Linked DNA regions of Homo sapiens: all the other regions are linked to region 2. Evidence: fine-mapped expression QTL. A gene starts in region 2. Each other region holds a variant in brackets. All regions are shown on one strand. Distances are from middle to middle. Region 1 has its middle 100 kb from the start of PTPN20. Region 2 holds the start of PTPN20 (protein tyrosine phosphatase non-receptor type 20). Region 3 overlaps PTPN20 (protein tyrosine phosphatase non-receptor type 20). Region 4 has its middle 130 kb from the start of PTPN20. Region 5 overlaps GDF10 (growth differentiation factor 10). Region 6 has its middle 28 kb from the start of FAM245B. Region 7 has its middle 50 kb from the start of FAM245B.

The links. PIP is the estimated chance that this variant, and not a neighbour inherited with it, causes the effect.
Region 1: its variant is fine-mapped to the expression of PTPN20 in blood mononuclear cells (TOPMed, PIP above 0.99).
Region 3: its variant is fine-mapped to the expression of PTPN20 in whole blood (TOPMed, PIP above 0.99).
Region 4: its variant is fine-mapped to the expression of PTPN20 in whole blood (TOPMed, PIP above 0.99).
Region 5: its variant is fine-mapped to the expression of PTPN20 in whole blood (TOPMed, PIP 0.92).
Region 6: its variant is fine-mapped to the expression of PTPN20 in thyroid (GTEx, PIP above 0.99). The same link has a PIP of 0.9 or more in aorta, atrial appendage, cerebellar hemisphere, cerebellum, esophagus muscle and nucleus accumbens.
Region 7: its variant is fine-mapped to the expression of PTPN20 in skeletal muscle (GTEx, PIP above 0.99).

The regions. Positions count from the first base shown.
Region 1 is chr10:47,009,565-47,013,633 of GRCh38, forward strand. No RefSeq gene overlaps it. Among named protein-coding and RNA genes, the nearest start is that of PTPN20, 100 kb to the left of the region's middle. The variant T/C (reference allele first, on the strand shown) is at 1,688.
Region 2 is chr10:46,909,311-46,913,379 of GRCh38, forward strand. It overlaps PTPN20 (protein tyrosine phosphatase non-receptor type 20), which reads left to right and starts at 2,118. Exons shown (of 11, transcript NM_001042357.5): 1 at 2,118-2,191.
Region 3 is chr10:46,995,067-46,999,135 of GRCh38, forward strand. The region is part of intron 9 of PTPN20 (protein tyrosine phosphatase non-receptor type 20); the gene reads left to right. Among named protein-coding and RNA genes, the nearest start is that of PTPN20, 86 kb to the left of the region's middle. The variant C/G (reference allele first, on the strand shown) is at 1,647.
Region 4 is chr10:47,035,780-47,039,848 of GRCh38, forward strand. No RefSeq gene overlaps it. Among named protein-coding and RNA genes, the nearest start is that of PTPN20, 130 kb to the left of the region's middle. The variant T/C (reference allele first, on the strand shown) is at 1,551.
Region 5 is chr10:47,312,827-47,316,895 of GRCh38, forward strand. It overlaps GDF10 (growth differentiation factor 10), which reads left to right. Exons shown (of 3, transcript NM_004962.5): 3 at 1-751. Among named protein-coding and RNA genes, the nearest start is that of GDF2, 7.6 kb to the right of the region's middle. The variant A/G (reference allele first, on the strand shown) is at 2,423.
Region 6 is chr10:46,766,909-46,770,977 of GRCh38, forward strand. It overlaps the pseudogene GLUD1P2. Among named protein-coding and RNA genes, the nearest start is that of FAM245B, 28 kb to the left of the region's middle. The variant G/A (reference allele first, on the strand shown) is at 1,731.
Region 7 is chr10:46,688,917-46,692,985 of GRCh38, forward strand. No RefSeq gene overlaps it. Among named protein-coding and RNA genes, the nearest start is that of FAM245B, 50 kb to the right of the region's middle. The variant G/A (reference allele first, on the strand shown) is at 1,650.

The DNA of each region.
Region 1 (4,069 bases), 100 kb after region 2:
TAGCCCTTCTCATTCTCATGTGCACTCTGGTTGCCCACACCCAGATACATGGACATTCGTGCAGGTGTGTATCTCCTGGTGCTATGCCACTTGCCCTGTGACACACTTGCCCTTTTGACACACCCGTATAATAAGTAGGACAGGCAGGAACATGGTCATATTCCAATTGTCGACAAAAACAAACACTATAAAATATTTGAAGAGATTTAAGCATATTAGCACCTGAAGAGCCTGGAGAAGAACTTACATGGATAAAGTGACATCACTTCAGCTTCTGGTTATGAAATTAGGAATATTAGGATAAGGAGGAGTGAATTAAATATCCAAAGAGCATAATGTAATGACAAATTTGTTTTGTCTCTTTAGCTAGTATATAGAAATTTCATTATGCATAACTTGGCTGATGACAGTTCATCCTCCAAAAGGTTTTCCAAGATGGGCTCACAAGTTCTACTGTCCTTGATTTCTGGCATTCTTTCAATTAATTGAAGTTCTTTATATGTATGTGACATTTTGGCTCTGTATAAAATTCATGTGTCATTTTTTTCTCACTTGGAGGGCTTGTAGACATTGTTTCACTTACTTTCTCTTAACATTCAGTGTTGTTATGGAGGAATCTATTGTGTTGGAAACATAATTCTCATACACAGAGGGAGTGAGCACACTTTATTGTTTCATTTAACTGTTTAATGACTAGCCAGCTGGAAGGCAAAAGAGCTGGGTTGGAGAGTATTAACAAACAAGAATTGTTTTCCCCAAGCACCGTTGTCGACTCATTTATCTTTTATTTTTGAAAGTTTTAAATTTTATTACGTAAAAGTGAAGAAAATGGACATATATTCCACTAGAGTTTGTCATTAATATAAAGTCTTTCATTGACATGCTAAGTCATTTCTCTCTTTTTTAAAAAATTTCAACTTTTATTTTAGATTCAGGGGATACATGTGCAGGTTTGTTACATGGGTATATTACGTGATGCTGAGGTTTGGCATATGACTGATCCCACCACCCAGGTAATCAGCATAGTACTCAATAGGTAATTTTTGAACTCTTGCCTCCCTCCCTCTCTCCCCACTGTAGGAGTTCCCAGTGTTTATTGTTTCCATCTTTATGTCCATGAGTACCCAATATTTAGCTCCCACTTGTAAGTGAGAGCATACAGTATTTGTTTTATTTTGTTCCTGCATTAATTCATTTAAGATAATGGCATCCAGCTGCATCCATGTTGCTGCAAAGGACATGATTTCGTTCTCTTTATATGGCTGTGTAGTATTCCCTGGTGTATATGTACCACATTTTCTTTATCCAGTCCACCACTGATGGGAACCCAGGTTGATTCCATGTCTTCACTATTGTAAATTGTGCTGAGATGCACATACAAGTGCATGTGTCTTTTTGGTAGAATAATTTATTTTTCTTTGGATATATACCCAGTAATGGGATTGCTGGGTTAAATGGTAGCTCTGTATTAAGTTCTTTGAGAAATATCCAAACTGCTTTCCACAGTGGCTGAACTAATTACACTCCCGCCAATAATGTATGAGCATGCCCTTTTCTCCACAGCCTCATCAGCATGTTATTTTTTGACTTTTTAATAATAGCCATTCTGATTGGTGTGAGATGGTATCTCATTGTGGCTGCATTTCTCTAGTGATTAGTGATGTGGAGCATTTTCTCATATGTTTTT[T/C]GGTTGCATGTATGTCTTGTTTTGGGAAGTGTCTGTTCATGCCCATACCCATTAACTTCTCTTCAACATAGTCCTGGAAGTCCTAGCCAGAGCAATCATGCAAGAAAAAGAAATAAGAGATAATATAATTCTAAACCAAAAAACCCCTAAAGACCCCACTAGAAGGCTTCTAGAAATGGTAAACAACTTCTGTAAAGTTTCAACAGACAAAATCAAGGTACAAAAATCAGTAGCATTTCTATACACCAATAATGTTCAATCTGAGAGTCAAATCAAGAATACAATCCTATTGACAACAGCCACAAAAATATCTAGCAATACATCTAACCAAGGAGGTGAAAGATCTCTACATGGAGAATTAATTACACGCTGAAAGAAATCACAGATGATGCAAACAAATGGAAGAACATTCCATGCTCATGATTGGAAGAATCAATATCATTAAAATGGTCAACTCACTTTTAAACTCTTCTTGTAACCTTTTTTTGAGGGCCTCTCTCCTTTAGCTCTTCCTGTGTGGAAGCTGTAGTTTTCATCTACTGCGTATTCTTGAGCTGACTGTTGCTTTCTTTTCTACTATCTTCGAATGGCTTCCTTGATTGTTCTTTTCGTCTTTGGAAGCCACTTTTCCTCCTCTCTGCCAGCTGATGTTGACAGCTGGTGTTGAATCAGGGCAGGGGGCAACTCGGATTCTGCTCTGTTGTCTTTAAATCCATCCTCACCAACACTGTCCTGTAGGGGCAGGGGATGTCTCTGCTCCTCAGTTTCCAGCAGTACATAGTTTCTAAGGAGTGAATGAATGCAAATACCTGACTTTCACTGTGTGATCTCCTAGCATTTGGGTGAAGTAGGCCACCATAATGTCCTTTCGCTTTTAGAGAAACTGAGTGCCACCACAGGACCAAGAATAAGTAGCATAAGTATTGTCACAGAGAACCCTCAGGAGCTTTCCTTTTTCATGGAATGAGAAGAGACACATTTGAGTTTTCATTCTGCAGTGCCAACTAGGATGATTACATAGATCACATTTGACAGATAGAACAGCACCTCTGGCCCATTCTCTCCCAGGCCATTTTTTGAGAGAGGCAAGCTAGTCATGATGAATGCATAGTGATGATGGGGGTCACATTTTAACTCATGTTGCTGTCCAAGGTGTTTGGGAAATCTGTCAAGCTAATCCTCCTGAATTTTGGAATTCTTGTTTTGCTTAGAAGCTTCTGCTAATAACAGATAGACCCAAGACTTACTGGTTAAAAATGAAATAAGTCATAGTATATGTCAGCTGTGTCTAGGATTCAGCCCTCTATGTATACAGTTGCTCAAAGATTTTAAAGCCCCCTGCCCTGACTGTCTCAGGGAGCTGGAGAAGCTGCCAATGATGATCAAAGGTGACATGAGACTCAGGCCCTGCTGACCCTAGTAGCAGGCCAGGGACAGTTCACTCACCGAGCACAATTTCAACCAAGGAAACAAAGGGACAAAGGGAGGACAAAAAGAAATAGACAGTCTTTGAATCAAAATAGTGACTCAGCTGTGCAAGGCTCCCTTCACAATACCGCGGTTGGGCAAAGACACTTTTCCTCTTTGGCCTGACTTGATTTTATGTTGGCCTTGCACCACCCTGTACACAGGGTCCTCTGTGGGGTGCAGTTCATGTGCATGTTCTGCCCATGATGGGAAGTGGGATTGTGGGCATTTCTTTAAGTAGAAGTGGCTGTCTGTCCTTTCCCAGATACCAATAAGAATCTGAAACCCATTCGGTATAATGTCTTTCCTAGGCCAGAATCATTCTGCTCCATCTGGAACACATGCTATTCTTGTGTTCCAGGCTGTGAGAACAAGCCTCAACCCTGCAGGGCTGCTGGGAAGGAAAGGTGTGGGTACCCAGATGGGTCCTGGTTGCTGAGATCAACTTTCATTTGTTTCTTTCTCGAGAGAAAGACACTGGGGAGACCAGCACCAGGCTGGGCTTAGAACAGCCACATCTCCTTTCAGAACTGTTATTCTCCAATAATTCATGTAGAGCTTCCTCTTACCAGCACCCTCACAAAAATAATTCAACCCCTCTTGAAAAAAAAAAAAAAAAAAAGGGAAAGAAAACAGACCGCTGTTTTACAAGCTGATTGTTGGGTTGAAACTTTCAATACCTACCTCTGATATTAACCTTGGTTCAAACGTATTTCAATCTTTGCCATATTCATTTTGTATTATCAGTACCTAAGGTATTTTCTAGTCCCCAGAAACTTTGTTAAATGAGTGAATAAATAAATATTATGCAAGTTGGTAGCAGAGTGAGCTCATCCTGATTCTGAATATTAGCTGCATGCCTGTTCCATGCACAACTTGGGCTTGGAGACAGCTCCAGCATGCTGGAAACTGGGA
Region 2 (4,069 bases):
CTTCTGTTTTTTGTCTCATTAAACACTTGCAACTGTGTCTCCTTTTTTAAAAAAAGGAAAACTGAGACACAAGTTGGGAAGTAACCTGCCAAAGGTCACCAACTATTCAGTAGCAAAGCAGGGACTTAAGGCCAGGCTTGCAAAGCTCCTAGTGCTACTGGTAATTGGTAAGACTCAAGGGTTTAAAGAGGCCTCCAAAGAAGGGTAGTAAACTGTGATGGGCCCTAAACTTTATAGTTCTTCGAATTTTTCACAGGTAAAAGGACAGAAAGCCAAGAAGAGCCTTCTGGGTCACTGGCTTCTGGGAATATTGTGTGGTCAAGCAGGAAGTCTGGGGGAGATGGAATGACACCTCAGGGTCCACTCTTACCAACTGTTCATTTAGCCTCCATGCAAGGATTTCCTGGTGATGTGAATGGGGGTTATTCCCTCTGTGTGTCTTGGAGCAGCCATGCTGCTCATGTTTGTGAAATGATGACCAGTGCAGAATCTTGATGTTAGGCACTATGAAGAAACATTAGACATGGGGTCCATCTTTAAAGGGGAATCTTACCCTGGTGATATAGTTTGGATATTTGTCCCATCTAAATCTAATGTTGGGCTGGGTGCGTTGGCTCATGCCTGTAATCCCAGCACTTTGGGAGGCTGAGGCGGGCGGATCACCTGAGGTCAGGTGTTCAAGACCAGCCTGGCCAACACAGTGAAACCTCGTCTCTACTAAAAATACAAAAATTAGCCAGGCATGGTGGCATGCTCCTGTAGTCCCAGCTACTGGGGAGGCTGAGGCAGGAGAATCACTTGAACTGGGGAGGTGGAGATTACAGTGAGCTGAGATCACGCCACTGCACTCCAGCCTGGGCGACAGAGCGAGACTCCATCTCAAAATAAATAAATAAATAAATAAAATCTAGTGTTGAAATTTGATCCCCAATGTTGGAGGTGGGGCCTGGTGGGAAGTGTCTGGGTCATGTGGGTAGATCCTTTATGAATGACTTGGTGCTAGTCTCATGGAACTGAGTGAGTTCTTAGTCTTTGTTTTCATGAGAACTGGTCATGGAAAAGAGCCTGGCACCTCCCACCTCTCTCTCTTCCTCTGTCTTGCACACATTGGCTCTCCTTTGTCTTCTGCCATGAGTGGAAGCTTCCTGAGGCCCTCATCAAAAGCGGGTGGTGGTGCCATGTTTCTTTTACAGCCTGTGAAACTGTGAAACTAACAAACCTCTTTTCTTTATAAATTACCCAGCCTCAGGTATTGCTTTATAGCAACACAAACAAACTAAGACATATGGCAATGGCGTGGGTTGCTTGCAGGGTACCTTGGCTGCTACAGAAAGAAAAAGTCTCTGTAGAGACTCACTGTCAGTGACTCACGGAGCAGAAGGCTGGCCTCAGAGCCTGGACAGAGGGTAGCTGTCACTGCTTAACTGCAGTTCAGCTCAAGCATATGGCTCTCTGTGGGACCAGCACTGAAGGCTGGGGGATAAGTGAGGCAGGTCTTGTCACACCTTCAGGGTATCTGGATTCACCAAAGTGGCTCAGGTCAGGACCAATGAATAGAGGTTTGTTCGTCAAGATAAAAAGATTCTGGCTTCCTGTTTTCAGGCAATGCCAACGATTGAATTCCCTCTACATTGACCACCCTTGCTGAAGTTGTCTTAATTGACCTAGCAGCCAACTGACCTCATATTCTGGCACAGGCTCTGACTCCTTTTGCCTATCTGCCCTGCTCTGATACTACAAAGAGACCCCCCCACCCCAGCCCTCTGGGGCCTCATTAGGGGCTTAGAGGGCAGGCGTGGGTCAGGCGAGCATTCCTGGAGAACACAGTCCTCAGTGGTTCAGGATATGAGCATAGCTCAGAGAGCTGTTGACATTATCAGCCTGGCCTGGGAGAGGGGGACCCGCACAGGGTGGTGCACAGGGCCCGCAGGGAATTTACAGCGGCGTCCGCGGCGATGGGCTCTCAGTGCCTTGGAAGACCGGTAGAGGCAGGTTCTGTCTCTCCCGGCCTGGCAAGCAGAGGGCCGCGGCGCAGGGCAGAGTGCCGCGGCGCAGGGCAAAGCTCCAGTGCGCAGGCTCGCGGGCGCAGGTGGGATTGGATAGCGACGAAGGCCGGCAGGCTAGGCGTGGACCCAACTGGCGAGGCTGCTGGGGTTGCAGCGGGACAGTTGGGGCGGCCCCGCAGGCCCAGGTGAGGAAAGGTGGCTGGGGGCCAGGTGGGCAGGGGGCGTGCGGGAGGCCGCTGCGCCGGGCTGTGGGAGGGCGGGCGTGAAGAAGGAAGATGCCGTTGACGTGCAGGGGTCACAAGGCGTGGGTTGTGGCCCTGGCCCGGGAGACTGCCCGGGTGGGCCTGAGCTGTGAAGTAGTGTCGCTGCAGCCAGAGGGCAGGACGTGATTCTGGCCGTGTGATGCCAGCTGCACTGTGACGCGTGTTGGGGCGCCTATGCGAGACGGGACCGGGACAGGAACCCTGTGGCTCTGTGGTAGGGGAATGCCACCAACTCCCTGAGGAGCAGCCGTGTGGTATGATTGGTAAGAAGCCATCATCAGGCGCTGAGACAGCCCAGAACTTCCCAATGACTCAAGGGCGGGTGGAGGTCGAGGGACCTAGAAAGAAAGAACATGAATTCATCAATCCATTCAGCAGCTATTTTGAACGCCTCCTGTGTGCCAGATGCTGTTCTAGAAGCTCAGAATATCTATGAACGCGATAGGCAATGCCCCCATATGCCAAGGCCCTCATATGCTAGCCTTGACTCAAGGAAAACTGTAGGATGGGGTAGGTTTCATTTTTGGAAGTTGTGGAATCAGTACTTATGTTTTGAATGTGTTAGGTTTGAGATGCCCAGTAGGTTTTTCCCAATAGAAGACATAAGCATAGCTGGGAAGAATTTTGCAGAGGACTCTGACCACCTACCACCTACAGGTGCCATGAATATTTAGCACATTTGATTTTTCACATTACCTATTCACCTTCTCTCCATTTATCAGTCACCTGGTAGTTTTTTTTAGTATGGTGAAATATACACACATAAATTATCTAGTAGATATTTGGGTTGAGATATCAAATGTGCTTTTTAGAAATTTAAATCTGAAGTTCTGGAGGATGTCGGGCTAGAGTTAACCTTTGGAATCGGCATCATATACTGTACATAGTATTTAAAATATATGGGACTGGTGAAGACATCTAGTTTAATAGTGTACACAAAGAAGAGGAGGCGAAGCCAAAAAAGGGAGGGAGGTAGTGGTCAACCATGTTGAATGTTACCGTATAAGATGACTTTGGTAATTAGGAGGATTTTAATCATTTTGACAAGAACAACTTTAATGGGGAAGAGGGGCCTTAAGGTTGGGTAGAGTTTTTTTCAAGATAGAAGAAAGCAGAATGTTTATATGGCAATGTGATTAAACTCGTAGAAAGGAAAAACTGCTGCAGATGAAAGAGGGGAACATTGTAAAGGGTAGTTGTTGAATACCTGAGAAAGGAGAAGACCCTAAGCAGGTGAGTAGTTGGTTTTGAAATGAGCAGGGACACTTACTCTGTTGTAACTAGAGGGGAAGCTGAGATAACAGGTGCAGATACAGTGGGTGGTGGGAAAAGAGTCTATTGGTATAGGCATCCATCAGCTTAGAGGGAGGGCAGCGGGGGAGAGGAAAGGTGTGGGAACTTGGAGGAGAGATATGTGACAGAGTCCTAGAGAGGGTGAAAGTGAGCGTACTAGAGAAATAGAGTTGGATTCCCAGGCAGTGCTCAGGGCCCATTTGAGACGTGTAGTCTTACATTTAAAGTGATATAAACCAGTGTGGTTGTTTCATGTTCAACTTTGGAAGGGTGTTGTGAGGATTAAAGAAGGTAATGCATGAAAAACATTTAATAGAGTGTCAGGCGTTTAATGAATGTTAACGCTTTTTATTTGAGCCCTCGTTTTGTTTTTCTTTTCTGTTTATACATATGTGACTGAGGATGGCTGGCAATTACCACTTGACAGGCTGTTCTGGGGCATGTTCTCCCATCACAGAGAACTGCAGTTTGCAGCTACTCAGAAGTCTGGTTCCTGTTGTGTTTACA
Region 3 (4,069 bases), 86 kb after region 2:
AGTTTGAATTTTTGATCAGGGAGCTCTTATATGGCTATCTCATGAGGGTCAGTCACTGGTTCCTTGCTTTATCCATTTGGGGAGGTCATGGTTTTGTGTTGACTGCAGTTTCTTCTGGATGTGCAAGAAATATATATCTTGTATTGATGTCTTTGAATGAAGGATTAGTTATTTATTCCAGTGTTCTCTGTCTGGCTTATTTTTGTTTTTTATTGAATGTATTTGGTTATAGATTCTATGTAATTTACCTGTCGAATTTTTTTTTTCTTTTTTTTTTTTTTTTTTTTGGTGAGGGGCTAAGTTGCTGCCTTCTTTTTGGCACTAGATGTCACCTTACGACCAAGTTTGCCTTGGCTCCAGTAAACAATAAGAGAGCTGCTCATTCCAATTAGGGAAAGTCTCAAAGGAGATATCATGGCAGTGTGGGAAAGGTGGCTAGAGATTCATGCCCAGGGGTCCTGTGCAATGTATCTTCTGCAATGTGGTGCTACTAAACAACCACTCTGGTTTGGCATCTCCTTTAGCTGAGTTACAGACCAGAGTTTCCAGGGCTGGGGATGGTAGTCCCACCTCACCTGTTTGTTTCTGACTCTTCTCAGGGTATTTCTTTCTTCAGGCACATGTAGTGCTTCCTGTGGGTTGAGGTAGGGACAGGTTTCCTGCCAGGTAACCCAGATGGTGGGAAACCTGGATGTCACCTTTTCTGGTATAGAAATCATGAATCAGGTGGAGATTTTTTGCACTCTTGGTGCTGGGCAAATTGGAGAAATGGGCATTGCAGATGTGGAAACCCAATTCTCTTACTGCCTACTTAGAGTTTTTTTCCCATCTCTGTGGATCCAGGAACTGTCTTCTCCTCGTATTTGATTTCTGGGATATTGTTGGTGATAATTTCAGTGCTGTATATTTGGTTTTGGTTTTCTTTGTAAAGAAGTGAAGCCAGCTTGCTTCTACACTGTTATTTTGGAACCAGAAGTCCTCTCTTGTCTTTTTAATCTAATTCTCTTTAAGATAATTATTTTATCTTTGAATTAATTATTTTTTATGTAAATTACAAATAAGTCTTAATGGTTCCTTTGCTTTGTTAACCAGTACATCTTTGGAAATAACACAAGTGTAGTTTTAGAGCTTCACAATCAATAATGACTATAAAACTCAATATATGAGGAATCATAACTCCAAGTGAAAATTATATAACTCTTTGTCTTCATTTCATTGCAGTCACTTCCATCTTCATTATTTGGTTAACCACTACAGCCACATTTGGAAAGCTGTGTCTTTTCTTAACTGAACAGTCCAGTCATGCTTGTTTTATAGTCAGTAAACTGATTAAAAATTAGTAATTCAAATGTATTTCCATAATTTGCCTAATCTTAAATTATAATTAAAAAAATGCTTTTAAAGAAGTTACAGTTTTTAATTCTGATGAGATTGTATTTTATTAGTTTTTCCTTTTATGGATCATGTTTTGATATCAAGTCTAACAGCTCATCACTTAGCTGAGGGCCTGAATAATTTTTTTGTGTTCTTTTATGAAAATTCTGTAAGTTCATATTTGACATTTAAGTCCATAGTCCATTTTGAGTTAATAAATTATTAAATTTAGGTGAAGATTCATTTTTTGGCCTATTGATGGCTAGTTGTTT[C/G]AATATCATTTATTGAAAATTCTGTTATTCCTCTATTGAATTATTGTTGTACCTTTGTCAAAAATTATTGGGCATATTTGTATGGGCCTATTTCTGGTTCCGTATTCTGTTCTATTGATTAGTGTGTCTATCCTTCTGCCGGTACCACCCTTTGGATTATTGTAGTGATATAGTAAGCTTTAACATCAGATAGAATGATTCCTCCCACGTTATTCTCCTTTTTCAAAATTGTTTGAGCTATCCTAGGGTCTGTGCTTTCTCTAATAAATTTTAGAATTAGTTTGGCTACATCTACACAAAACTTGCTGGGATTTGGATGGAAATTACTTTAAATCTGTAGTTTAATTGGAGAGAGCTGATATCTTTACTGTATTGAATCTTCCAATCCATGAACATGGTAAGTGTATTTATTTAGGTCTTTTTTGAATTCTTGCATCAGCATTTTGTCATTTTCAGTGTATAGATCTTGTATATGTTTTGTTAAATTTACCCTATTCATTTTCTTTGGAGCAATTGTAAATGGTATTGTGTTTGTACTTTCAGTTTCCACATATTCATTGCTAGTACGTAGAAATTTAATTGATTTTCATTTGTTGATCTTGTACCCTGTGATCTTGTTGAAATTACTTATTAGCTCTTAGAGGTTTTGTAGGTTTTTTTTTTTTTAGATTCTTTAGTGTGTTCTACATAGACAGTCATGCCATGTGCATATAGATTTGTCTCTTCCTTTTTGATCTGTATACAATCTGTATACATCCTACTTATTTTCTGGTCTTATTGCTGTACTAAAATGTCAAGTGCTATATTGAATAAGAGTGGTGAGAGCAGGCGTTGTTGCCATCACTGATCTCAGAGGGAAAGCAAACTAAAATTTTATGTTTTGTGAAAGACCCAATGAAGAGGATAAAAAAAAAAAAACAAGCTAGAGAGTAACTATATGCAGGGCACATATCCAACAAAGGCCTTGGATCTAGAATTTATAAGGAACCCTCAAAAATCAATAGTTAAAAAAAAAAGAAAAACAGAAATGGGTAAAAGACATGAACAGACAGTTCACCAAAGAGAACATACAGATGACAAGCACGTGAAAAGATGCTCAGCTTCATTAGCCCTTGGGGAAATGCTAATTAAAACCAGGATGGAGTAGCATTACACACCTATCAGAAAGGCTTATGTAAAAATAGTGACAGCACCCCATGCTGATGAAGATTTGGAAATGCTGGTGAGGATTTGGAGAATTATGTGAAGATTTGGAGAAACTGTATTGCTCATACATTACCCATATGTATGAGACATTGGGAATGTAGACTGGTACCAGCCACTACGGAAAACAATTGAGCAGTTTCTTGGAAAGAAAACAAAAACAAAACTAACTAAAGTTGACATATAACCCAGCAATAGCACTCTTGGGGCATTTATCCCAGATTAATCAAAATTTATGTTCATACAGAAACCTGTATGTAAATGTTCATAGCAGATTATATTCACAGTAGCCAAAAACCAGAACAACCCAGATGTCCTTCAACAAATTGATGGTTAAATAAAGTGGCACATATCCACATCATGGAATATTATTTAGCAATAAAAGGAAGCAAACTATTGTTACACCAACAACTTGGATGGATCTCCAAGTTATTCTGGGTGGGAAAAAAGTCAATCACAAAAGGTTAGCTATTGTGCAATTTTATTCATATAGTGAATTTTGCTATTTCTTCTTGAAATAGCAAAAGCATAGAGAAGGAGAACAGATTACTATTTTCCAAGGGTTAGAGATTGGGGTGGATGAGTGTGACTCTATAGGGATAGCAGGAGGAAGTCTTGTGGTGGAACAGCTCTGTATCTGGACTGTGGTTATAGTTACATGAATCTTCACATATGATATAATTGCATGGAGCTCTGTGCATGCACACATGCACACATACACACTCTCACACACTCACTAACAGTTGCATGTAAAACTGGTGAAATCTGAATTAAGCTTTGTGGATTGTCCCAATGTCAGTTTCCTGGTTTTGATATTATATCTTGTTAAACAAGATGACACCATCTGGGAAACTGGGTGAAAGATACACAGGGCCACCCTGTACAACTTCCTGTATATCTGTATTATAAAATAAAATTTTTTTATGGCAGATATGGTGGCTGACGCCTATAATCCCAGACCTTAGGAGGCCAAGGCTGAGGATCACTTTAGGCCAGGAGTTTGAAACCAGCCTGGGTAACAAAAATAAAAATAAAAAAGTTAGCTGGGCATGGTGGAACGCACCTATAGTTCTTGCTACTCAGGAGGTTGAGGAGGGAGGATTGTAGTTTGAGATTGCAGTGAAATATGATGACACCGCTGTACTCCAGCAGCTGAGACAACAGAGCAAGACCCTGTCTCTAAAAAACTAAAAGTTTTTTCAAAGGGTTAATTAAAAATT
Region 4 (4,069 bases), 130 kb after region 2:
AGGGACAGACACCTGGCCATGAACAGCAAAATCAGGGTCCCAGATTGGGAAGTCTGACCTTCCCCCTGAGTGTCCAGCCCATGTGTGCAGCCAGCCCATGTCTGGAGAGTGCAACTTGGGACAAGGGGAAGGAGGTCAAGTCTATGCCATCCTGCCCTGTCCTGCCCACTTGTCCTTAGGCTCGGAGAGCAAAGCTTTAGGCATTGAAAAGAAATCTCTGGGACCCCAAGGTCCCAGGTGTGGGGCCTGGCAGGTGTGCTGGGAGCCGGCTCTCTGCCCCCTTCCTCAACTAGGCCTTGGGCATTGTCCCCCCAAGGACCTCCTGTGACTGGAGGCTCCTGTGCCCTCCCATCCTGGGGCCCGACGGGTCAGGATGCCCAATGCAGGCTAACTGCACTCTCCAAGCCTACCCTCTCCCTTTCTCACTGCTCCACACACAGTGAAATGCTCCACTTTCATTTCTGGAGCCCACTTGGTCCTCTGCAGATTTGAAGGTGTTTCCCAGGAAGGCAGGTAGTTCAAGAGGCTGACTTGGGAAAATTCATCAGAGAAGCCCTGGCTGGGGAGGAGAGTGAGGGGCAGGTGTCAGGACACTCACACCTGGCATCTGGGAGGTGGCCCATTTCTGAGGGTCTAGAAAGAGCAGTGCTGCTCCTTGAGAGGGGTGTGGCTAGCGAGAGCAGCCTGTGCTTGTTAGGGTCAGAGGAGATGCGCTTGAATCCCAGCTCTGCCTTTTCCCATCTGTTATCACTTTGGACAAGGCACCTAAATTGCTCCAACCCTGTTTCTGCACAGGTGTGGGCTGACTTTAGTAGAAAATGAATTTATTGAACAGATGGGGTGGTTGACAGAGAATCCTGGAGCACAGGCTTGGAGAACAGGAAGGTATCAAGGCAAGCTTGACCACCGAGGTCAACCTGGAGGTGGGGGTGGGTGGTGGCGAGGTGTGGGCCACACCCCACCACCCCACTGTGAGGCCTGGCAGAGCTTACTGCTGGGTGGCAGAGTTCAGGTAACAAGTAGGTGGGTGCAGCAGCAGAAAGATGGCTGAGTCTGGACTGCCCTGCTCCGTGTCTGTAGCAGCAGCTAGGTCCTGAATCCTGCAGGACTCATCCATGCTGGGGCCAGTTCTTCAAGCACTAAGGGCGTTCAGAGGCTTGACAGCCAATAGAGAGAACAAGAGGCACTCTAATGCCCAGCGCGTCTGCTTTCTGGGGGATCCTACAGACTAAAGATGAGGTCTGTTGGGTTCCTGACTCCCGGAGGGCCATCACTGAGTAACCAGAGGTTCTGTCTCTGACAGCTTCTCTATAGCCACAAATCAACTCCCTCATCCTGCGTCTCCACTGCCCAGTGAAGAGGCACCTGCCAGTCCCAAAAAGGACCTCGTGCGGCATCCAGGGTCACCTTACCCACCTGGCTCAGGCTCCAAATGCACACACAATGCCTGGATCAAAGGGAGGAGGAAGAGGCTCACTGGTGGATACACTTTTATGTCACAAACCTAAGGAGAAGAGGAAAGAGCTGTTTGAATGAGTAATTTTGGATCT[T/C]GGAGGATAATATGGAGAGGGTCATTTGTCTTTGGATTTTAACCGGGACTTCCATGGAGAAAAGTTGGGGGCTGTTACTAGACATCCTGCAGGTTTGGGAGGTGTAAAAGCTCTAGCCCTGCTCCAGCAACAGGATCAAGGCAACATTTCACCCTCGGCTTATTCTGCCAAAGATGCAACAAGACAAATGCCAAAAAGACAGTCTTTAGAGTTAGTACATGTGGCTTTGAGGCCCACCTCCCTTCCCTAACAGCTGGGTTCTATTTAACTTTGCCAAGCCTTGGTGGCTTTCCTTCAAATGAAAATCAACGTCTATTGCCCAGGGACATTATGAGGCTAAACTAAAATAGTTTTTCTATACCTCCTAGAATAGGAGACAGTAAATTTTCTCTATAAAGAGTCAGAGAGTAAATATTTTAGGCTTTCAGGCCGTAGGGTCTCTGATGCAACCACTCAACTCTGCCATCATAGCCTGAAAGCAGCCATAGGCAGTGCATAAACAGATCAACCTGGCTGCATTCCAATAAAACTTCATTGATAAAAATAGATAGCAGGCTGGATTTCGCCTGCAGGCCTTGGTTTGAGAAGCCTCCCCTGGAAAATAGTAGATACTCCTCTGCCAGAGAAGGCTGGATTGAGTAATAAAGAAATTGAGGATTATGCTCAGCAAAAGGGGGCATGGAGAATGGCTGAAGGAAGGAGGAGGGGCTCAGAAGGTGTCCCCAGAAAATTACTGGTTTGCACCTTACAGCATCTGCTTCCCACACTCCCTGACAGACATGGCAGTCCCCCCTCGAATACCCCCGCACCCAGACCGAAGCGTGTCCCGGACCCCTAGAGTGGGCTGGCCACATGGGTGCATTGAGTGGGAGGTGCTGCCCAGTCTTGAGGCTGGATGATCTTTCCAAACTGGATGACGTGTGCCATCACTGAGGGGTCCTGACCGCAGGAGAGTGGGCAAGGCTACTGCAGCACTGCTAGTCCTGGCAGGGATCACACTTGCTTGGGTGGTGATGTGCTCCTGTGACCCCTTCCCTGGCCGGTGGAAGCTTTGGAGCCAGTCCTCTAGTACAGGATCACCCTCTGTGCAGGAATCATGGCAAGCACTCTCATCAGGACCTAAGTCACCAGATATTGACCCTAGTGGTCGTACATTTGCCGCCTTTACTTTAGATTCAGCAGTGGAGTCTGGTCCATCTGCCTGGGGCTGGGAACTGGGGTGAGTGTGGAGGGGGAGAGAGCATTCAAATGGTACCTAGGGATGTTATCTCATCCCATGTGCAAGGGTTTGAGCTCCCATCACTCACTTAGATCACCCCAGTCCCCGACCTCGCATGTGGGGGAGCCAAACCCTTCAAGAAGCTCACAGCCTCCTGGTAAACAGAGAACAACAGCAGAAGCTATTCAAGGTTACATTTTGGTTTTTCCCTGCCTGTCTATTTTCCATTGTTCAAGATTATTCTTGAATTTTAATCTGTTTTGATGATGGAGATGTAGACATTCAGAACTGTCCTAAACTTCCTCCTGGGTCATAAATGTGTTGCCATTAACATGAGACTGTCCCCCCACAGATCCCCTCCCTCAGGCTCTGGATGGCTGCTGGGGGAGTGCCCCTAGCCTGCCGCCAGGCCCCACAGCCACACCCTTTGTGACGGGTGCTGGGCCCTGATAGGAGCATCCCCCAATCTGTACTTGGTGAAGCAAGACCTGTCACTGTCACCTTTTATCATACTCTCACGGGCTGCTGGCTTTCTCAGCCTTCTTCCTGGTCTGTGCTTGTCAATGTCCCATTAGCAGAAGGACAGACAGTGGGAGAAATCTGTGTCCTCTCCCTTGTGTATGACCCCGTAGTCTTTAATTAGCTCATGACACCAGTGGTCTATAATTTCCGCCCAAGACCTGCTTTGATTTTTGCAACACAAACATTGCGCGAGGACCACTGATAAGGTTCAGGCGGGACAGAGCAAAGAACCCAGCACTTCTCAAGCAGATGGCCAAGGGATTGCATGGCCCATATCGCTAATCCCTTAATGAGGGCCTGGGGGCTGCTGAGGGCAGGGGCCAGGGGGAGCGAGGGCTGGAAAAGCATAGCCCAGGCTACGCAGATGCCCCAGGAATGTCTTACACTAACAAACCAGCCTGCAGGGCAGCCCCTCTGGCCTCATCGTCATGCTCATGGAAACTTGTGCTAATTATGGACAGAGCAATGTGGCTCTGCAAAGGAAGCTCCTTTGAAATCTCATGGCCTCTGATGATAATGCTTCAGAGCTGTGACATTAACACAAACAGGCCTTGGTAGGTGGGCAGGGTGAGAATGTGCTGGCCCCGCAAGGCCTACCCAGCCACGCCTCGTGGAATGATGCTGCAGGGGGGACGGCTCTGCCATGCACCACAGCTGCTGCTGATATGTCTGTTCACAGCAGTGACCATTTTCTCCCCACTTGCTTTAGCTTGAGGTTTGGATTTCACCATCTCATCAATTCTTAAGACAGCTTTGCAAGGCACCTGTCACTGTTGCC
Region 5 (4,069 bases), 400 kb after region 2:
AGAGCTGCCTTCTCGGAGCCTTCTGCAACCAGGACTTGTGGTGCAGCTGCAGACACAGAGCACAGCTCATGGGCAACATCACTGGGGCCCAGAGAGAGCTGTCCGCCAGTGCATCATTAGGGGGTCTTTCATTGCTAGTGACTAGCCCCTTAAATGCCAGCCTGAGTACCTGAAGGAATCTGGGAATTAGCCCTGGCCTGAAAGTGGCCCATCATTCATACCCACTGTTCTGAAGGCTTGAAAACAAAACATATCCACAACATTGGCTTGATGTGATCATCATCTCATAACTGAGCAAGAAGACTATGCAAATCTTAGGGCGCTCGCTCCCTGCACACGGAAAGAACTCTGTTTAAATGCTCAGTTCAGAACACTTTGGGCCACATAGTGATTTTGGAAAACAGGATAATCGTGGTGTAAATGAGTGTTTCCTTTCAAAGTCCACTGCAGAGCTTTTATCCATATGGTATGCACATGTAGCCAATATTGGTTTCTTTTTCTTAATATATATATTTTATTTTAAAACAACAAAAAGGGAGGGCGTTGACACCATTCCCCACAGAGATAGTCATGCTGAGTGTGGGTTGTTTAAACATGCATATTGAAATAACACATATAGTAACGTGGGAATACTAAAAAATAACCAAGATTTTATATTTTTGTAAATTATACTTTCTATACTGTAGATTGTGTATGTTATGTGTTTTTATGGAAAGCTAATAAATTAAAGGTACAGTGGTATCTTGAAAAACTGAATGTCACCCATTTCAAAATCTCACTGGCTCCCCATCTGTAAGTACACCATCTGGTGGTTGCTGGGGTCTCAGCCTCTTTTAGGGTCGCTGGAGTCCCCTAAGCCATCTCCATACTCCCTGGTGTCTGTCCCAGGCTCCAGAAACCCAGGCTTTCCCATGCTTTCCAGGGGCCTGTCCCACTACTGGTTCCTGCAAACCCAAGCTAGGCTGATGTTGAGAATGGACATGGCTCCAGACAGGGACAGTGGCCTCTCGGGGTTTCTCCTCATCCCCTAGCCTCAGGGACATGGATTGATTGGGAGGTGCCTGGGGTGTTTAAAAAAACATCTATGGTTGCCTGGTCAGAGATCTTTTACTTCTGGTAATTCATGGAGCAAGAGATTCAACATAAGTAGGGGTCTCTCCTGAGGTCCAAGGACTCATGAGGAAGTGGACGGGCCATGTGGTCTCCTGCACCTGCTTCTCTTTTGCTTGTGTGTAGAAGGATCACCCAAGCCACCCCAAATTGTTCCCTTATGCCCTTCGTTTACATTGCCTTATGATGGAGTGCCTGAAGCTGCTTAACCAGCATTTCTGAAAGAGAATCTGGATCCAATTTGAGACAGGTGTATATATAGCAGTCCCATCAGCTGGGACCTACAGATGACGTGGCCCCAAGTCTTAGAGGAAACTGCAAAGCCATAGTGGTTTTCTAAGAGGGGATGTCCAAGGAGAGAAGCAGCTCTGGTGTCTGTCTTGGGCCTTAGGCTGGGCTCTGGAGACCAGGATTCCTGTGCAAGGGATATATGGGGAAGTGCTCTCAGGAGACATGGGCAAGGGTGAGGTGAAGCAGAAAAGCAGGCTGGGAGCAATCCTGTGGGGAGCTTTGGAGCTTAGTTACTCCTCAGGGCAGTGTGGCCTCGAGCAAGGGAGCTGGGTGTTCAGGGCCTCTTGGCTTCTGGCTGCCCTGGGAAGGGCGATGTAAAGTCCCAGTTCCCTGGCCTTCTGCCCAGGCAGCCACAGTGATTCCAGGAGCCTAGGTAGCATCCGAAGAGTGGCAACTCCTGGAGGCGAAGCCATTGAAACTGGAGAATGATTAGCCAGAACTGGTAGGTGAGGGGGATGCGAGGGTGCCAGGGTGAAGCTCCGCAGCTTCTGCTCAGCATCTCCTATGAGGTGCTCCAAGTGACCCTGGGACACATGCGTGAGCAGCTGCCGTGGGGACCCCTACCTGCTGGGCACATGGCCCTGCCTGCTGACAGAGGTCAGGGGAGTGGTGGGATGGTCCTCCACACTCACCACCTTATTCCCTTACTCCCACAGGAACTGGACATGGGACCAAATTGTTCCCTTCAAGCTGCTATAGGTTGCTGGGCTGGCGCAAACTGGCCTGCACTTTAGTGCTTGGTTTGCCATGTCTAATTCTCTTTGGAACATGACAGGATATAAGTTAATAGCAAAATAAGTAAAAATATTGGGGCTTAATAAAACTCCAAGTCCCTTTCTTCTGAATATTCCATCCCTCATTTTCTTCTCATTCAACTGCCCCCTTTCTATTTTTGCTAAACATGGGCTGTCCAATAGTAGTTTTATCTTATTCTTTCTAGCACTTGCAGTTTCTGGGAGGCCTTCTGGATTCCCCCCAAATACCTGGAATGCCTCTGAGTCCTCATGTCTGGCTTACTGGG[A/G]TTGGGGAGGGCAGGCTGGGACACTCTCCCTGGGTCCAGCTGTGGGCATGGCCTCCAGGCCTGTGCCTGGATGGAAGGTGCTCAGTTGTTGCCATCTTTCCTGGGCATGCCCTGAAGACCTTGGAATGTGAAATGGGGCAGGTCCCAACTGGGGACATGACATGTCCCAACTCTACAGTAGGAGAAGCTGGTATCATTAGTGACCCCTCCAATGTATAGAAGACCACGCAGTTACAGGATCTTGCTTAGCCTCACAGCAGCCTTGCAACTTACTGCCCAATTGGAGCTGCAGAAAAACAAGCTCAGGAAGGGTAAGTAACATGTCCATTGATGTCTTGCCAAGACCACAGGGAACATTAAGTTTGATGCTCAAGGCCGCCTGATTTAAGGCCTACATGACTGGCACTGACCCTGAACTTCCTGGCCAGTGATCCCCAGTCTGCTAGGATTGTCCCAACAACACTGAGGTTGGGACACAGTAAAGTGAGGTTAAAAAGAAATATGTTTATGAAATAACTTGTTTTTCCCTTAAAACAAAAAATGTCAACATTACATTGTCATAAGAGCCCAAAAGATTCCATCATACGGTCTGGACACGGTTTGCTGATGTCACTCAACTGGGCCTGTTTCATTCTGGAGGGAGCAGGGTGGTGGCCTGCAGCTGGGCCGCATCTCTGAATTTACACATCCTCTAGAAGGGCAGGGCCTCTTATAGATTAGTTCATGTGACAAACATAAATAGTACCATTGAGAGCTAAAAACTTGAGGGCTGGGAGAAAACTTCAGAAGGCTTCCAATACAACCTTTATACTTGAGAAATGGGGAGACTTGAGTCCTGGTACTACCAGGTGTTTTGCCTGGGGTGTCCCAATAGGTGCCTCTCTATGACTTCATAAAATGTCATCAGAGCAGAAGCTTATAACTCATGTTTCTTCTGTGGCCAGGATGGAGACAAAGCTGTGACTGAGGAACTTATGCATGTCTGAGGTGGGAAGGGGAGGATGAGAGGAGGAGACTCTGGAGGAGGAGGAATGGAGACGACTCCACAAAGAGGCTGACTTTGAGACCAAGCAGGACGAAAGAGCCGGGCTTGGCTGGTGGAATAAGGACATCACAAAGAGCGTCTGCAGCAGCGCATGCCAGGGAGGGCTTGAAGGTAGTGTCAGTGAGAAACCAGGAGGGCTGGCCAGCTGGCCAGCTCTGGCTGTGACTTGTGCACCAAAACACCAACATTAGAGTTCAAAACTATTTCCCTTTATCAAAACCTGGAAACATAAGATCCTTCACAGGTGTTTCTGGGATTTCCATTCCCCTTCTCTCTGCTCCCTGAGATAATAATGTCCATGAATCCTCTATCTATCCTGCCTCCAGTCCGCTCACTCACGCTCAGCCCAACCCCAAGCCATGCTCCTCTAGCATCTCCCAGCAGGCTTGTTTGTATGGGTCAGGGATAGGTGGGTCAGATGGAGAAGAAATATGTTTATTTATCCAATTATGTAGCATTTACTATGTGCCAAATACCATGCTAGGCAATGTATTCATATGTTTTCTCTTGGAAGGCTCTTATGAGTTCCCTCTTTTGTCAAAACCACTGTGCAAAATGCCTATCAGAGTTGCCTGGAGAGCTTGACACAGTTGGGCCCCCTA
Region 6 (4,069 bases), 140 kb before region 2:
TCCCGAATCTTTCTAGAGGCATCTACGAAAGTATTATGCTTGCTTTAGGATTAAGTAAGCTTGTTACCTCAAACAACAATTCCAACTAGGCTGGGGCAGTGGCTTACACCTGTAATCCCAGCACTTTGGGAGGCTGAGGCAGGAGGATGGCTCGAGCCCAGGAATTTGATACAAGCCTGGGCAATATAGTGAGATCCCATCTTGATTAAACAATATATTTTAAAAACAAAAAAGCTGGCTGTGCACGGTGGCTCACGCCTGTAATCTCAGCACTTTGGGAGGCCAAGGTGGGTGGATAACGAGGTCAAGAGATCGAGACCATCCTGGCCAACGTGGTGAAACCCCGTTGTAGACTAAAAATACAAAAATTAGCTGGGCGTGATGGCACGCGCCTGTAGTGCCAGCTATTCGGGAGGCTGAGGCAGGAGAATTGCTTGAACCTCAGAGGCAGATGTTGCAGTGAGCCGAGATCACGCCACGGTGCACCAGCCTGGCGACAGAGTGAGACTGTCTCAAAAACAAAAAACAATTCCAATTGGAGAAGGGCTCTGGCAAGTGGCAAGTCTGAAGCACACAGTTTGTAAATCACAAACATATAATGATAAAATCCTTCTCAAAAACAGTCTATACATGTTAAACATGCAACAGCTTCACCCACCCAAAACAAAATCACAAGGTATCAATTATTAGGCTTACTAGTTTTCTGCTCCATACAAACTAATGTATTGGGATGCACAGATTACAAGTAGCTCCTGAATAACAGATACGTTCTTCTTTTTTTTTTAATTTTTATTTTTTTGAGACGGAGTTTCACTCTTGTTGCCCAGGCTGGAGTACAACGGCATGACGTCAGCTCACTGCAACCTCTGCCTTCCAGGTTCAAGCAATTCTCCTCCCTTAGCCTCCTGAGTAGCTGGGATTACAGGTGCCCGCCACCACGCCTGGCTACTTTTTTCTATTTTTCGTGGAGACGGGGTTTCACCATGTTGGCCAGGCTGGTCTCGAACTCCTGACTTTAGGTGATTTGCCTGCCTCGGCCTCCCAAAGTGCTAGGATTATAGGCATGAGCTACCGCGACTGGCCTAACAGGTAAATTCTTATATAGAGAGCACGGTCTGAGGCAGAAGTTCATCTTTTTTAAAAAAGCAACTTTTCTAACAGCATGTGACTATAGAGTAGGAGATGAAAGGGTAATTTTGGTGCACAGAGATATAAGGGGATGAGAAGGGTGGAGACATCAGGGTCCTGCAGAACTTTACATAGGTGATATTTACACTCACACAAGGGAATGAACACTGACCTTTCAAAAGCTTTTCCAAAAACAGAAGAGGAAGGAACACTCCTCAACTCATTCCATGAGGCTAGAATTGTCTGGATACAAAGACTAGACAAAGACATCATAAGAAAACGATAGATCAGTGTCACTTAGAATAGCATTAAAAGGAATACAATACTTAGTTGTAAGACTTCTACAATGAGAACTACAAAACATCATTGAAAGAAATCAGAGACCTAAATAAATGGAAAGACATCTCATATTCAGCATTGGAAGGCTTAATATGGTTGAGATGGCAATACTGGTCAGGTGCAGTGGCTCATGCCCATAATCCCAGAATTTTGGGAAGCTGAGGTGGGAAGATTGCTTGATTCCAGGAGTTTGAGACCAGTCTGGGATACGTGATGAGACCATGTCTCTACAAAAAATTAAAAAGTTAGCCAGGTGCAGTTGC[G/A]CACGCCTATGGTTCTAGCTACTTGGGAGGGTGAGGTGAGAGGATTGCTTGAGCCCAGGAGGTCAAGGTTGCAGTGACTGCTGCCTGGTACTCCAGCCTGGGTGAAAGGGCAAAACCCTTTTGGGGAGGGTGGGGAAGATGGCAATACTCCACAAATTGGTGTGCAGATTCAATGCAATTCCTATCAAAATCCCAGCCTCTTTTTTTTTGTTTTGTTTTGTTTTGCAGAAATTTACAAGCTGATGCTAAACACACATGTGATAGGATCAGGGCTCAGGCTCAGGTCTGAGCCTCAATCTGACACTCTCTGTGGAGTGTCAGGAAATAACAGATAAATAACATCGAATTTGAAGGTTTGCCGAGAAGTGAGAGAAAAAACTCCCTTTGCCTGCCTCCTAGGCTTCAAAGCTGTCTGGGCCAAGACGTCAATTTAGCTGCATCATGGGTCAATGAGGCCTTTGCGAATTAGGCAAATAAATCAAGTTACTAGAGTTTAAGCTGTGTTTTCTTTCAGTATTCCAATGAATCACTTTTTGACCTTTGGAATTATTAGGTACTTGTCAAGACTGATAAAATTTAGCTGGAGATATTGCAGATATGGGCGATAAATATGACTGAATAAAGTCTGAAACCATTCAAGACTATAAAATGTGTTTGAGATTTAGGCGAGGAGGAAAGACCTTTTGAAAATTATGAAGGCTATTAACAGGCTGAACATGACTTCAATTCACCATATCTCAGAATCGGTAGGTACTCCTATAAAAGTGTGAGTGAGATAGTTAACTCATGTTAACAGGCTCCGTGTAATGATGCACAAATTCACAGTAGTGCTGGGTATGCGGCACGTCAAAGGCCCAAATGCCTTTTATTATGAAAGACAGGCCAAATCTAGTCAAGTTTTAGAGTTACCTATACTTACTGTATTTCTATATTAGGTTATTTCATGACATTTATTTCATGACTTTTTTCCTAAAAATGAATCTGAATAGCTTTATTTCTTTTCTCTTTCTTCTTGAGATGTGGTCTTGTTTTGTCACTTAGGCCAGAGTGCAGTGGCACGATCACAGCTCATGGTAGCCTCAACCTCCCAGGCTTAAGGGATCCTCCCATCTTAGTAGTTGGGACCACAGCCATGCACCATCACGCTTGGATAACATTTTCATTTTTTGTAGAGACGGGGTCTCGCTATATTGCCTAGGGTGGTCTTGAACTTCCAGGCTCAAGTGATCCTCCCACCTCAGCCTCCAAAACCTCCAAAAATGCTGGGATTACAAGCACCAGCCACCATGCCCAGACTTTATAGTTTAATTTCATAGGCATTTGTCCATGGTGGGGGAAATGCTGAGAAAGAAAGTAGAGAAAAATACACTTTATTTCCTATTTAAGTAGACCTTATTTTGTTTAACTATACTGATACTGATAGGGCAAGTATTATATTATTAAGTAACTATTAACATTCTATTAACTATACTGATAGGCCAAGCATTTTATTAAATAATTATGTATATTCTATTCAAACAAATTAGAAGCCTTCTAGATTAAAAATATATGTATAGAAAGGTTTAAACTGCCTGAAAATTAGAAGGTAAATGACAAATATTTACATATCATAGGAAAGAATGTTCAGATCACACACAAAGAACATATAAACACAGATAATAGTAAGATACGAAGACATCAAGCAAACGAAGATTAGTGTCTTCAAAAATGTTGTATGTTTGGCAAAAGCTCCTATCACAAATAGTAGGAGGCCGGGCATAGTGGTTCATGCCTGTAATCCCAGCTCTTTGGGAGTCTGAGATGGGTGGATCACCCGAGGTCAGGAGTTCAAGACCAGCCTGACCAACATGGCGAAACCCCATCTCTACTAAAAATACGAAAATTAGCTGGGTGTGGTGGCACATGCCTGTAGTCTCAGCTACTTGGGAGGCTGAGACAAGAGAATTGCTTGAACCCGGGAGGTGGAGGAGATTGCACCACTGCACTCCAGTCTGGGAGACAGAGTAAGACTCTGTCTCAAAAAAAAAAAAAAAAAAAAAAAAAAAAAAGATTTTTTTAGATGTTCCCACTTTATGCCAAAATCTATGTGGCTACACATACCAATAAAGCCCTTCTTTGCTAGCTCCATGGTGAACCTCCTTGTGATCTTTTCCAGTTTGTTATCCTGTAAAATAAGAAAACAATAAAAATAAAAAAAGATACAAAAATCGCTTGAGATTATAGCTAGCATCTTATTTTCTATTTATAGTACATTTTCATGTCTTCTCATCCTTAGAACAACTCATAAGGTAGGCAATGCCATTTTAAAGGTGAGAAAATAAGGGATCAAAAAAGTAGGT
Region 7 (4,069 bases), 220 kb before region 2:
CATTTCTCTTGGGATGACCTAGGAATGGAACTGCTGTGTCATATGGCAACTGTATGTTTAACTTTTTGAGGAACTGCCAGACTGTTTCCCATAGCATCTGTATCATTTTACATCCCTATAAGTAAGGAACCCTATAAGGGTTCCCATTTCTCCACATCCTCACCAACAGTTGTTGGGGTTTTGTTTTTTGGGTTTTTTTTTTTTGAGATTTTTTTTAAGTTATTATAGTCATTCTAGTGGGTGTGAATTGGTATCTCTATTATTATTATTATTATCATTATTATTTTAGAGACAGGGTCTTGCTCTGCCGCCCAGGCTGGAGTGCAGTGGCGCCATCACTGCTCACTGCAGCCTCGACGGCACAGGCTCAAGCAGATCCTCCCACCTCAGCTTCTCGACTAGCTGGAACTACAGGCTCAAACCACGCCTATCTCCCTATGTTGCCCAGGCTGGTCTCTAACTTCTGGGCTCAAGTGATCTTCCTGACTCAGTCTCTCAAAGTGCTGGGATTATAGGCAATGAGCCACCACACCTGGCCTCACTGTGATTTTTATTTGCATTTCCCTAATGAATAATGATTTCAACACCTTTTCATGTGTGTATTTCATGTGTTTATTTGGCCATTTGCACATTTTCTTTGGAGAAATATCTCTTCAAATTCTTTGCCCTTTTTTTTTTTTTTGAGACGGAGTCTCGCTCTGTCGCCCAGGCTGGAGTGCAGTGGTGCGATCTCCACTCACTGCAACTGCAGCCTCCTGGGTTTAAACCATTCTCCTGCCTCAGCCTCCCGAGTAGCTGGGACTACAGGCACCCGCCACTACACCCAGCTAATTTTTTTCTATTTTTAGTAGAGACGGGGTTTCACCATGTTAGCCAGGATGGTCTCGATCTCCTGACCTCGTGATCCGCCCACCTTGGCCTCCCAAAGTGCTGGGATTACAGGCGTGAGCCACCACACCTGGCCTGCCCATTGTTTCAATTGGATTATTTGTTTTTTTCTTATGGAGCTGTGATAGTTCTTCACATATTCTAAATACTAGACCCTTAACAGATACACAATTTGCAAATATTTAATCCCATTCTGTAGGTTGTCTTTTCACTTTCTTAATGATGTCCTTTGAAACATAGAAGTTTTTAATTTTGGCCAGGTGCAGTGGCTCACACCTGTAATCCCAGCACTTTGGGAGGCCAAGGCAGGCAGGTTGCTTGAGCCCAGGAATTCAAGACCAGTCTAGGCAACATGGTGAAACCCCACTTCTTTCTTTTTTTTTTTTTTGAGACAGACTTGCCCTGTCAACCAGGCTGGGGTGCAGTGGCATGGTCTCAGCTCACTACAACCTCCACCTCCCAGACTCAAGAGATTCTCGTGCCTCAGCCTCTCAAGTAGTTGGGATTACAGGCGCGTGCCACCATGCCCAGCTAATTTTTGTATTTGTAGTAGAGAGGGGATTTCACCATGTTGGCCAGACTGGTCTCGAACTCCTGACCTCAAGTGATCCATCTACTTTGGCCTCCCAAAGTGTTGGTATTACAGGAGTGAGCACTGTGCCTGGCCCCCATTTCTATAATACAAAAAATACAAAACTTACTGGGATGTGGTGGCACATGCCTACAGTCCCAGCTACTCAGAAGGCTGAGGTGGGAGGACC[G/A]CTTGAGTCTAGAGAGGTTGAAACTGCAGTGAGCCATGATGGCGCCACTGTACTCCAGCCTGGGCAACATGATGAGACCCTGTCTCAAAAAAATAAAAACTTTAAAAAAAATTTTTTAATTTTAAGGGCCAGGCGCAGTGGCTGATGCCTGTAATCCCAGCACGTTGGGAGGCCACGGTGGGCAGATCACAAGGTCAGGAGTTCGAGACCAGCCTGGCCAATATGGTGAAACCCCATCTCTTCTAATAATACAAAAATTAGCCGGGCGTGGTGGTGCGTGCCTGTAGTCCCAGCTACTTGGGAGACTGAGACAGGAGAATTGCTTGAACCCAGGAGGCAGAGGTTGCAGTGAACCAAGATGGCACCACTGACTCCAGCCTGGGCAACAGAGCAAGACTCCATTTCACCAAAAAAAAAAATTTAATTTTAATAAAGTCCAATTTATCTATTTGCTGTTTTTGAAACTGCATTTATGAGGAGATTTTGGGGAACAGGGTTAAATGGTGACAGAATAGTGTCCTTTGTGAGGATGTGAAATGGAATAATTTGGATAAATAAATAGGGTTTATGTATCATTGATTACTAATTCTTGCTACAGTATGATGAGGGCAATAACATGTTTGAAAATTTAACCTTAAAGTTTTGCTAATTCCAGTAGTAGCAAAATATTTATATAGCCCTAAATAAATTTTGAGGAATCAAAGGAGTGATACATAATAAGTGAATACATATAAAATGTTGATTGCAAACAAAGGAAAGATGATTGAGAGAATATAATTTGTCAGGGCATTTTATTTGCAGGACATAATAAAACTGGACAATAATATCTATCTCATACAGTCCTTGTATTAGATATATTAATCTTATAAAGTACATGAAAGAATGCTTAGCACATAGTATTTGCTATATGAGTATTATTTATTATCAGTAGTATTCTTATTAAGTATCTAGATTTAGAGCTACCCTGAGGCTCTACTGAATATAGTACGTAAGAAATTTCTCATTGTAACTTCCTCTTTTCTGTTTTGCACACATTTCTTGTAGGATTACCTGAAGAAATATTCTCAGTATTGTTCCACATCAAGATGGCCACTAGTAGCACTGAGCTTATATCTTACTAGCTAAGCTACTTTTTCAGAAAATGAACACTGTTTTCCTCAATAATTCCAACAAAATTTCTAGTTAAGTTTCTCATTAGACTAGGTTGGATCATGATCGTATTACAAAATAAAACATATGGTTAATGGGGTAGCATCTTTATTTTGGGCAGGTTGAGACATATTATGACCACTGCCCATGATGATTAGGTCCATTGCTCTCACATGGTGTGAACTAGCAGTGAAAGAGAGGTAGAACTTCAAAAAAGATTGAAATGCTGCTACAGAAGAAAAAGAAAATACTGAGGTCTCTGTAACCACAGATATTTATGTTATAAGAAATCAATACAGATTAAAAATTAGGTAAAAAAATTGATTTACTAATAATCTTGATCTTTAGCCACATTTCTCTGAAATAAATTTGCTATGATGCCGTGATGGGGATCAGCAAGCTACGTTTTCCAAGTTCCTTCAAGTGGGATCCTGCTACGTACTGCTATTGGGAGGTACTAGAGAAACATAGGCAAGAGAATGGAAGAATAGATCTCCTTTTCCTGTTTGTTTGCTGTCCTTGCTGATATTCTCCCAAGAACATCCCCTTGCCCTAGGAGCAGTAATTGTTTCAGTTTACCAATTTTTTCAGAGCCCCAGAAAGTGCCTCTTCAGAGGTAACAGCAGCAGTTGGAACATTTCTCTCCCTCAGAGGTCTAGCCTCAGCTCAGGAAGGCTTTTACTCTGAGTTTACAAATTTTAATAACTCCAGTCTCTTCCCTTTATTCATCTAAGCTTCTGAGGAGGTCCGTATGTGGCCACGAGATGGTGGTGATAGCTTCATCTTGCAGTCATTTTCTTTGCTTTCCACAGTGTTGTTACTTTTTTCTCCTATTTCCTATGTGGTCAATTTTTTAATATTAACTCATAGTCATAGTGTAGTATTCATACTTTATGTGAAATGAAATGTTTTTTATAATGTAGCCATGGCCTACCAATAGCATATTTTCTTTTAGATTTCACAATATATATTTTGCTTCAGTGACTTTATATGCTTTTTTGTTGCCCACATTAGTTTTTTATATACAAAACATCCAATATTACCCTGGTCCCATCATTTCTTCTGATATCCATTGTCCTGTGATTTCTCCTGGAAAGTGAATTGTTTATCTGTCCATTTCACTCTGTGAAGTCATACAGGTCTATCTATATAGAACTCCTGTGCTCCAATTTATTCCTTGTGTGAAACTGGGCAATTTTTTAATCTCGGAATATGTTTCTTCATATGCAAATCAGAGATAACACTTACCTCACAACATTGTTTAGAGCATT